Homo sapiens: one gene and its partner. The protein of the gene in region 1 purifies or fractionates together with the protein of each later gene. This does not show direct contact. Each region holds a gene or a part of one and is shown on either strand. Other genes may lie near its edges. The genes, in order: LARS2 and RDX.

What was found.
Region 2: the proteins of LARS2 (region 1) and RDX purify together in Homo sapiens (co-immunoprecipitation; 2 studies listed by BioGRID and IntAct, with this or other methods). This does not show direct contact.

What each region holds. Positions count from the first base shown.
Region 1 is NC_000003.12:45,545,550-45,550,175, forward strand, and holds the end of LARS2 (leucine--tRNA ligase, mitochondrial), read left to right. Parts: intron 1-1,801; coding exon 1,802-1,981; 3' UTR 1,982-3,858; downstream 3,859-4,626.
Region 2 is NC_000011.10:110,286,321-110,293,614, forward strand, and holds part of RDX (radixin), read right to left. Parts: intron 888-7,294; exon of another isoform or gene 680-887; intron 1-679. UniProt on the Homo sapiens protein: Probably plays a crucial role in the binding of the barbed end of actin filaments to the plasma membrane.

The DNA of each region.
Region 1 (4,626 bases):
CCTGAAGGGACTGCCTTGGTAAGGCAACTCAGGGGAGGCCTGGGGAGCCAGAACCGTGTGAGGGTGCCCGAGGCAGCAAGGGAAAGACTCAGAGCACGATGGCCACATTCAGAGATCACATGCCCTGCCCCCAAAGCCCCAGCTGTGGACAAGAATGACTCAGGTCCCTTGGACAGGCTGTCACCAGTGATGACTTAGGACCAGCCTGCCCGGCTCCAGCAAAGCACAGGAAGCTCGAAGGTTTAGAAATGGGTCATTGTTGTGCTGAGGCCATGCGTCAAAGAGGACATCCCACAGCCAGCTCCTATCCTGGCCAGCACTCTTGACAAAGGCAGAGGGAGTGCAGCTTAGTGAGCTGGTCCCTTTACACAGGTTATTCACTCCAGAATCTGGAGAATTCTGTCCTTAAGGAAAAAAAAAAAAAAAACTAAGCTCAAGATCCCACAGCTTGTAAGACCAGGCCTAAGAGTCAAACCTGAATCTCCCCACATGAGAGCACCATGCTCCCCCTCACCCAGCACCCCCTCTGTAGGTGGTGGCCCAGAGGAGATGTTGCCCTGGGCTGCTCTTCCATAGGAGGAAAGACATGATTCACTAATAACTGCATGTCCTGAGAATTCCCTGTTGGGGACCCCAGGACTTCACTAGGGGCATGGCTCTTGGGTGACAGTTGGGAGGTCTCTTCCAGGGTCTCAGTCCAGCCAAGCATGTGGCCTTGCAAGAAGGCAGCTTCTAATGGCTCAGAAACACCAGGGCAGGGGGGCCACAGTCCTTCACACCACACACTTAGTTCCCCAGCTTCAGAACGCTTTAAAACGCTGCAGCATGGAGCCTCACGCTTTCAAAACAGTATTTCATAATATGCCAGGACTTTGTGTTTTATTCGTCCTCTCCCTGTGACCTAGGCTAATGCAGACAATAAAAATGCCACCAAGTTCTGCAAAACTGAAAAAATGAAGTGGGTGATTAGGGGACATTTGATAATGTGCTTTGGTTGAAACTTGAGAAATTATTCCTAGTAACTTTTCCTAAGACTGTGACTATATTTTCCAAGTGAAAAATAAGAGCTAGTGAAAGTAATGTGTGTGTAGATTTCGGAGCAATGGGATTGAGGATTTGGAAGCATGACTTCAGAAACTGAGCCACGTGGTCACCTTCCCTCATTGAATCAATATTCGGTGAATACCCACCTGTGTCTGGAACTGTACTGACCCATGTTAAGCGAGAAAGAGTGATTAATGTGACAAGATGTGGCTCCAATTTCTAAGTCCTCACACTAGAGCGCCCCCTTCTGGAGCCAGTCAGCAGAGAGAGAAGTTTGACTGTGTCCCCCTTGAAACCGTCAACTGTTTGGTCCACTTGAGACCTAGGTAAAATCTGAGGGGACAGCTCACTCTAACCTGGATCTGAACTTAAACTTGAGCCCCGATGACAGAATAATCCCTTTCTGCCTGGAAATGGCCCAAGCCATCTCATGCTGAGGCTTTTTGACATAATCTCTACCACAGCTGTGTATGGGAGCAGTGCTCAGAAAATGCAAGGCGGTCCTCACTCCACGTACGGGCACTCACATGCAGTCTCAGTGTCGGTCTCTTTCTGCAGGTCTAGGCATTAATCCTATTCAGCTGGTTGCATTTTACCCTTATGGGAAGCAGAGTGCTGACTTCCTCCTTTCTCCACCTCTATTCCTTTCCCCTAAACAAATGCAGCCATGCCCTTTACAGGCAGGAGGTTTGGTATTGGGCCGCCTGCCACTCTGAGGATGTTCCTCATTGTTTATCTTGGCTTTTCTCCTTCTCAGATCAACAATAAAGCTTGTGGCAAAATTCCTGTGCCCCAACAAGTTGCCCGGGACCAGGACAAAGTCCACGAATTTGTTCTTCAAAGCGAGCTGGGTGTCAGGCTTTTGCAAGGACGAAGCATCAAGAAGTCCTTCCTTTCCCCGAGAACTGCCCTCATCAACTTCCTGGTGCAAGATTGACAGCCAGGAGGCTGCAGCTACCACGAGGGCCTCTGAGGAACCTCCTTCCAGGCCTGGGATGAGGGGGCGATGTCTGCTGGCCCAGGGGAAGGGAAAAGACAAATGTCTTGACTGTTGACCTCGGTCCTGTGGCAGACTGCAGTCAACAGTGTGCCTCTGTAGTGTGGCCTGGTGCTGGGGTGAAGGTGAGCTGGGCAAAGGAGAAATATGAGCTACTGAGGAGGGGGTTGGACATCCTGCCCCTCACCCCCCACCCACACTGCAGGTAGAGGAGGCCATCTGATCCCATGGGAAGCCATCAGAGACACTGCTGGTGGGAGCAGGAAGGAGCAGTGCCCCTCGAGCAGCCAGGAAGCCTGCGGATCTGGGAAATGGCTCTGCCTTAGGCACTTCTCGGGAATTTGAGGCCAGCCTGAGGAACTGCAGGACTCAGGTGCAATGTGCCAGCCACTTGGAACTGCTAACTGAGCCTCCAGATGGTAGTGAATGGTCTCTTTGCCTTCAGGCTGGATGAGGAAGTCATTTAGGAAATGTTCAAATAACCAATATGTGGAAATGGACACAGGGATCTTCTGAAGTTGCTTTGAATCAAAAGGCAGGCAGTGCTGGTTCCTCTGCCTGTGTCCCCACCACTCCCCAGCTCTGTCATGCAGGCCTGTCCTCCCCAACCCCAGCTGGATGTGCCTCCCAGGCCTGCTGTGGTTCTGACACACAGGATCCCAGGCAAGGCACCACTTCCTCACATGAATGAGGAGCAGCAAGTCATAACCACTCCCTTGGGTATACAATTTGCTGTGTAGTGAAGTGGAACCAGGCTCAGGCTGCTGGTCCCAACCTCAGAGCCCCACCGCAGCCCAGTAGGGATGCAGCACGCCCCAGAGGGCTCATGTGGGCCCCAGATGGCAATGCCACCATTGTTGATGTGACTCCAGAGCCAGTTATTAGGAAGAGCAAGCTCACCACAGAGGAGTGGAACTGAGGCCCCCCAGATGTTGCCTCCGGTGTCCAAGCCACAGCGGTCTGGCTGTTGGGAAGATGGCCAGGAATGGACTCATACCATTGGCACATTAGGCTAATCCTGGTTTTATGTGAAGTCAGCAATTAAGTGTTCCCACTAGAACTGACCTAAGCCACTGATTAATATTTAATGAGGGAAGGTAGGGGAGAATCTAGCCATTTTATAATGCCAGAAATCTATATATGTTATCTGATGCCATTTTTCTGAAGTAGCCTCACATGTGGTCCCCCTGCAGTTCAGCAGTTAACAGATGACTTTTTTAGTGTAATAAAATGTTTATCATCTATGACTTCAGGACATATGTGTGATCCTGGAATACACCATATTCCAATTTCAGAGTTAATTACAAACAGATTGAGGTATTCCATCATCATCGGAAGCATTGGCTGTGTGTCTGACTCCACATGGAATGCTATAAAGTGGGATACATGTGGTTCTTCTTGTTCCAGAACTTACAGTCCATGGTAGACAACACTGATACAGGCAAACTAGCAACAGCAATTAAGTCACTGGTTCTCAGACTTAATACTCTGCCTGGTCCTCATGCCCAGATATTCCAATTTAATTGGTCCATGGTGTGGCTTGAACACCAGGAATCTTTAAAACTCCACAAGTGATTCTAATGGGCAGCAAAGTTTGAGAATCACTGGACACATTGATGCACTTGAGCCATCATTTCTATCTAGTTCTTCCTCTTCCTAATCTTCAGGTTAGCGGGGATAAGTTTGGTCCAGGACCAAGAGTTGGACCAAAAGGGAAGACAGGGGCCAGAAGTCTAGAGTGCTAGAGCCGACTTGAATGTACTCAGTCTCATTGCACATGGCAGTGAATATGGATTAAATATAAGCCCATGAAAATATTTGGTACAAGGAAGGAGTGAGTGATTTTGATTATCTTGTTATTTCCTAGTAAGCTAAGTGGTCTTGAACAAGATGAGGGAAGGGAGCCCTTTATTTGCATGTGATCTGACCAGAGCAATGGGCCAGTAAAGCCTCAAGGCTGCTAGACTGACCAGCTGGCTGACACCAGCATGGCTCTGAAGAAATTGCTCCAAGAGGATAAAGCTTTTGCAAACAAGAGCTCATCAGTACATACTAAGAGACAGTATGGGTAATGGAACAACTGGACAGAAAACTCTGACCCCTGGGAGTGAGGTGGTGGGGAATAATCTCAGCCATTTATTGACTGTCTTGTTGAGGTCAGAAACTGGACTCAGCAGGTTCACAATAATTATCTTATTTAATTCCCACAAAAACTCTAGAGGGAAGGAATTATTCTCTCATAAAAGAAGAAACCCAGGCTCTGAGGTTCAATAATTGTCTCAGTTTTCACAGCTAATAAGTAGGAGAACTGGGATCCAAGCCCACATCTTCTGTCCTCCACGTTTGCCTCCCCGCCATGTCTACCAGTCCCCTCACCTAATTGTCCATGTTACTTGGTGTACACAGTCAGGTGAGATGGCTCCCAAAACCACTGGCATTTTGAGCAGAGTGTGGCTGGGGTTTCCCTCCTGGAAAGCCTGTAAACCTGGGAAATCACAGAGGTGGTGTCCTCTCTGCAGGGGCAGTGGTGGGTGAGAGGCCAAGAGCATGTGGTTAGTTCCAGAGAGCTGGGAAAGGTCATCCAG
Region 2 (7,294 bases), on another chromosome or scaffold:
ACTCATATGAATATGTACTCAAACACAGTGCCACACATTAGAGACAACATAGACACAATAAACATTCTCTCCTTTGTCTTTTAACTCTGAGGGTAACCCTCAGTCTCCTTTCTACCTAATGCAATGGAAAAATAGCCTCATGCTCGACACATTGAGCTCTGTTAGGTCAGTGGCACAAGACTCACACCTGTCAGGTGGTAAAACAGGTGTTATAAAGTCTAGTCCATGCAGTGCCTGCACTGAAGCATCAATAATTCATAGCAGATTGCCTGATTTTACTTTTGAGATACTCTTTTCCCTAAGCCTAATTTTAATTATTTTAAATTTTTTTCTGCCTTTTCGGACTTAGAAATGACCTCTGAACATAATTGTGGTCTCTCCAGAAACCAAAATATTCCAAGAGAACTCATCTGCCAATTTACTGGGAGAAAGCTGCACAACAAAGAACAGTATAAACTGAATAAGGCAACTCTGGCAGTCCAATCAACACAATAATGGAATCTACTAAAGAAGTTCTTAATCATTTTATTTTTCCTGCATGGGCCCTGCTGGTGAAGCCTATGAACTCTTTCTAAGAAAAGTATTTTTAAATGCATAAAATACATGCACACAATACAGAAAATTACAAAAGAAACCAATTACACTGGAATATGATTATCAAAATATAAAAAACACAAACCTTGAGTAATATATATGCTTTTTTAATACTTTAAGTAACAGTTAAGTTATTTCGAGACAGCTTTAATGTATTCCAAAAGTATCTACCGTTTCTATTAGAAACAGTCTCTGGGCTGGTTATGGTGGCTCATGCCTGTAATCTCAACACTTTGGGAGACCAAGGCAGGAAGATGGCTTGGGGCCGGGAGTTCAAAACCAGTCTGGGCAATCTACAAAAAATAAAAAAATTAGCTGTGTGTAGTGATGTGCACCTGTAGTCCCAGCTATTCTAAAGGGTCACTTGAACCCAGGAGTGATGGTGCCACTGCACTCCAGCCTGGGCAACAGAGTGAGATCCCATCTCTATAAAAAATAAAAATTAAATTAAAAAATAGACGACACAGTCTCTGGTACTGTACTGCTAATGCTAATGTTGTCTATACTCATAACAAGAAAATGTAAAAATAAAGATGTAACTTTTTCCCCATTCAAGGTCATAGGTCCCCGGGTTTAAAACCTTTAATATACAAAGAACTATGCTTATTATGCTGTTAGCTCAGTGTTAATAAATTTTATGGCAATAATAATGCACTTTTACCTAAATAATGACATGTCATCCCGTCATCCCAAAGTGAAGCAAAGAGGACAAGAATTTTTAGCTCCATTTTGCAAGTAAAGAAATAAGGCCAAAAGCAAGAAGGGTAGTGAATACAGGGAGCATCTGTAGAATGCTCACTCTCCACTCTGCCTACACTTCCTATCTTCACAATAACTGCCCTCCCCCTTCCTGCCCAAGACAGGTGTTACAATCTCTCATTCTTCTAAAAAAGAAATTAAGATTCAGATAAATGACTTGCTCAATGTCAGGGGGCTACTTAACAAGACATAAGTCCTTTAAAATCCTAGTCTTGGGCTCTTTTGATTATCTTATTCTACTTTTCTCAGATACCATTTTAGACAAGTTCATTCGAAACAATTACTAGGGCTTTTCAAGAAGTAGGCTATTAAAGCTCTCTATTGTTAGCAGGTCAAGAGACTACCTCTAAAGATGTTTTAAGTGCACATTAATAACTGGTATGATCATCTCTGTAAATGGATTTCCTGTAAGGGTGAGAGGCAGTTTTAAATAAGATATTAAGTCTTGCTCATGTAGAAATGATTTCTGGTTTAATGATATTTTCAAGGAAATGAAATATTCAACGTTTGAGTAATATACATGTTACTGAAAATGCAAAGCAAATTTCTAAAATTTATAAAGCTGAACTGCAATATTAACACCAAAGTTTTACACTGAGTTTAGGATCTCTTCTAAGAGTTTTGTAAATTTAAAAAGGAAAATCATACCTGTATTGTTCCTAAGGTGAGCAGAAAACAAAATAATACACTATCATTTGCAATTATTAAATACTAAAAGGTAAGAAAGCTAAATCCAGTTCAACTTCCTCATTTCACTCTTAAGAAAACATTAAACATTCACATAAAAATGTTTAGAAATGGGAAAACAGGTTCATGCAAGTCACTTATATAACAGGAAAGAAGCAAACACAAAATAATTCTCACAAATAATTCTACCCTTAATGTGCTTTGAAACATCAGATATTATAGCTTATTTTCAAAACAGAACAAAGTCAGTATGTTTCTTAAATGTCTTTATAATTAGACAATATTCTCTAACACAGTCAACGAGGCTATATGGCAGTTCTATTGCTATAAAAAAATTAAGCTTCTAATTTTCTAGATATTAACTCCCTTTTTTGAAAAACTGATACAATGCCTGGTTCACAGTTGGGCCTCAAAATGTCTGTTGATTTTGTTGGTGAATTAATCTTACACATAATACTAGTTTTAATTTTTCTGTTGATTAGTGTCAAGGGCAATAGTTTCCTCTCTTTTTTTATGTTGTAAAATGACCAAACTAATAAGCATCACTAAGAAGAGAGAACCAACATGAACATGGGGAACAAAAAAAGCTCCTTACAGCTGGGCGTGGTGGCTCACACCTGCAATCCCAGCACTGTGGGAGGCCCAGGTGAGCGGATCACCTGAGGTTGGGAGTTCGAGACCAGCCTGACCAACATGGAGAAACCCCCATCTCTACCAAAAATAAAAAATTAGCCGAGCGTGGTGGCGCATGCCTGTAATCCCAGCTACTTGAGAAGCTGAGGCAGGAGAATCACTTGAACCTGGGAGGCCGAGGTTGTGGTGAGCCAAGATCGCGCCATTGCACTCCAGCCTCGGCAACAAGAGCAAAACTCTATCTCAAAAAAAAAAAAAAAAAAAAAAACTTTTTACAACTAGGCCTCCCAAATTCAAGCCTTAACCATCTCTATCCAAAACTGTTTTAATAATTTCAATTAAGTTGACAATCAAATTAAAGGCCAGATAATTTGACACACTTAATGATAACTGTAATTACCATGCTGCTTGTTGATTAGATATTAGCAGTAAGCTTTCTGGTGATATATACTAACTTTGCTGAATAGCCAAACTAAGTTTTTATAGTTTTTCTAAGTCTAGAACCTATAAACAGCTTAAGTATCAGGAGTCCTCACAATGGCTAAGAAAATTTAATCCAAGCCAAAGGGATCTAAAGTCAATTAACCACAGCTGAGATTTTCTATGTTCCCATTCTCCCTTTCACTCAGAGTCCTTATGTTGACTGGGGGCGGTGGCTCACACCAGAAATCTCGGCACTTTGGGAAGCCAAGGCGGGTGAATCACTTGAGGTCAGGAGTTCAAGACCAGCCTAGCCAACACGGCGAAACTCCGTCTCTACTAAAAATATAAAAATTAGTCCCGTCTCTACTAAAAATATAAAAATTAGTCAGACGTGGTGACCTGTTTGGTGGTGTGCATCTGTAGTCCCAACTACTCGGGACGCTGAGGCAGGTGAATTGCATGAATCCAGGAGGCAGAGGCTGCAATGAGCTGAGATCATGCCACTGCACTCCAGCCTGGGTGACAAAGTGAGACTGTCTCAAAAAAAAAAAAAAAAAAAAAAAAAACAAGGGTCCTTACGTTGCATTAATGCATCCACATTATTCCATGTACTCACCAGGATTTTTTGTTATAAACAAAAATACCCACTCTGGTTAACTTATTAAAAGATTATCAGTCAATTTACAAAAACAACAGGAAGATTTAACAAAGAAAAAAAAACAGAGGAAGCAAGAAACATCCAGAACTCACAGCACAGAATACTGTGCTTAAAATGCTGCTGCAAGGAGTATTAATTAACTTATACACACTACTGTGACACTTAACAGGCCAGGTGTGGTGGCTCACGCCTGTAATCCCAGCACTTTGGGAGGCTGAGGCGGGAGGATCACTTGAACCCAGGACAGCCTGGGCAACATGGTGAGACCCCGTGTCTACAAAAAATAAAAAAGCCGGGAGTGGTGGCAAGCTCCTATAGTTCCAGCTACTTGGGAGACTGAGGTGGAGGGATCACTTCAGCCTGGGAGGTCAAGGTCACAGTGAGCTATAATCAAGCCACCGCACTCTGGCCTGGGCAACAGAGACAGTCTCAAAAAGAAAAAAAAAAAAGCACTTAACACACTTTATGAATACAATATGGCACATCTATCTGCCCATTAGAGTGAGAACTCCTGAGTATTTTACTCATCTTTCCATTCTCAAATGCAAAGAGTATGTGGCATATAATAACTGTCCAAATGTACGACTGACATCTTAAAGCAGTGGTCGGCAAACTTTTTCCGTAAAGGGCCAGGTAAGTAAACATTATAAGCTTTGTAAGCCACACAGTCTCTGTTGAAACCATTCTACTGTTGTAGCAGGAAAGCAGCCATAGATAATATGTAAACAAGTCAGCTACGATGTGTTCAAATAAAACTTTATAAAAACAGGCAGTAGGCTGGGTTTAGCCCATGGACCACAATTTGCCAAGTATTTTAACAAGAATCAACACTTTTCCTTTCATAATTTAACTGAAGTTGGTACCTACAAAGATATGAGCTCACTACATATGACTATCTGTAATGGATCAATTTTGGATATGACTTTGGGTGGGGGTAAAAAAAGGACCGAAGACATGTAATATAGATGAATAATGAAAATAACAGGGCTGGGTGCAGTTGCCTGCACTTTAGGAGGCTGAGGCAGGAGGATCACTTGAGGCCAGAAGTTTGAGACTAGCCTGGGCAACATAGTGAAACTGTATCTCTAAAAAAAATTAAAATCAGCCAAGCATGGTGGTGTGCACATGTAGTCTTAGCTACTCCAGAGGCTGAGGTGGGAGGACTGCCTGAGCCCCGGAGTTCAAAGCCCTGGAGTTCGTGGCATGGAGCTATGATCATGCCACTGTACTCCAGCAGCAGAGAGGTGACAGTGACAGAGAGAAGGAGGGAGACAGGGAAAAAGGGAGGGACGGAGGGAGGAAGGAAAAAGAAAAAAGAAGTATCTATTGGGAACAGAGTTGGAAGAAAGGGCAATTCCATTACCCTTGCCAGTTGACTGGTTAGGTATAGAATGTGCCCCAATCCTGGCCAATGAGGCTCGAAAGACATCTGCTTGGGGGTTTCTGGAAACAGTTCCTCTTATTCCTTTGGATACTGCCCTGTCTGGATGGGATGCAGCAGCCAAACTGGGACAAGGGGCTAACTGCAGGCTTGACCTCCCAGGCTCAAGTGATACCCCAACCTCAGCATTCTGAGTAGCTGGGACTACAGGTCCACACCACCGCTCCTGGCTCCTTTGCAGCAGCCAAATTGAGATGGGTAAGGGCTGTCTTAGTATGAAGTTAATAGGGAAAATCACAGGGAAGAGAGTTGGAAAGAGAAGGAGTCCTTGATGTCATTATTGAACCATTCTTGAGCCTCTGGACTTTTAGTATGCAAGACATTAAATTTTGGCCAGGCATGGTGGCTCACACCTGTAATCCTCCCAGCACTTCAGGAGGCCGAGGCAGAAAGTCCAAGGCAGGAAGTCTGAGGCAGGATGATCATTTGAGACCAGCCTGGGCAACATAGGGATACCCCGTATCTACAAAAAGGCTTTTTAAAAAATTAGTTGTTGGCCAGGCACAGTGGTTCACACCTGTAATCCCAGCACACTGGGAGGCCAAGGCGGGCAGATCACTTGAGGTCAGGAGTTTGAGACCAGCCTGGCCAACATGGTAACACCCTGTCTCTACTAAAAATACAAAAATTAGCCGGGCCTGGTGGCATGTGCCTTAAATCCCAGCTACTAGGGAAGCTGAGGCAGGAGAATCGCTTGAACCCTGGAGGCAGAGGCTGTAGTGAGCTGAGATCATGCCACTGCATTCCAGCCTGGGCAACAGAGCGAGACCCTGTCTTGGAAAAAAAAAAAAAAAATTAGCTAGGCATGGTGGCACACGCCTGTGTTGGCAGCTACTAGGGAGACTGATGTGGGAGGAACTTAAAGGATCACTTGAGCCCAGGAGGTCAAGGCTGCAGTGAGCTGTAATAGTGCCACTGCACTCCAGCTTGGGTGACAGAGGAAGACTCTGTTTTCAAAAAAAAATGAAGAAAAAAATGACATTAAATTTCCTCATTGTTTAAACCAGTTGGAGAATTTTCTGCTATTTGATGCCAATGCATCTTAAAGGATCTAAGGGCTCAAAACTGAAGAGCGCTCACTTCACAAATTTACCTGCAGTCAGTCCTAGTTGACTTAAACTTTTCACAAATAAATTAAAAAAAAAAAACATTTAAGGTCCTGAAAGCCATAGAGATTATCTACAACTCAGAAGAAAACAGTCCATTATCTCAATTACTAATAGCTTTATAAATTCTATAATCTTAGAGAAAATAAACAATGAAGTACCTGTTTCTTCAATACTGTATCTAAAATATCCTTTCAACAGGATGTTTTTTCTAAGGAGTTGGCAAACTTTTTTTGTAAAGAGCAAGATGTGGCTATTTCCCACACCAAATTATAAACCTCCTTTTTTAAAAGACACCATTTCTCATTGTCAACTATATGCCATATGCTAGAAAACAAAAAGTAAACTTCATCTTCAATCATTAATCAAGAAAATCTGTACACAAACAAATTTGCACATACACACACTTGAGAATTAGCGTAGGGAATTCTATTGTGTGCTTTTATTCAAATGATGAAAACATGAGAAATATGATTTACTCAATGTTTAACACAAGTTAATAAGCATCCTTTCAATGTCTGTTACAATATAACCCTATTTTAACAAGACTTTAAAATCACAAATAAGGGATATAAAGTATATGTTTATCCCTGCATACCTACTGGCATTTTCTATAAACAAGGAATTGCCGACAGCAGCTACCTATGGAAAACAGGACTGGGAAAGGGGCTGGGGTGTTCCAGGGAGTAAGGAGGACTTTGACCTTTTCCTTGACATTTTTCTGAGTTTTTAAACTTTGCCATAAAATATATCACTTTTATAGTTTTTTTTAAATGGCTTAAGCTATACATTCAATATAAAGATATACACCAGGAACTTAAAGTAGGAAAGGCAGGATTTCTCTAAAATAGGCTAGAAATTGAGGAACTCTCTGGGGCCAGATTGGACACCTCTATCATCAAAGCAGTACGCACACCCTGGCTGCAGCAATCAAGGAAGTTACCAGAACAGTCTTCAGCTGGATCAGTAATGCCATGAGACTTAAAATAATCT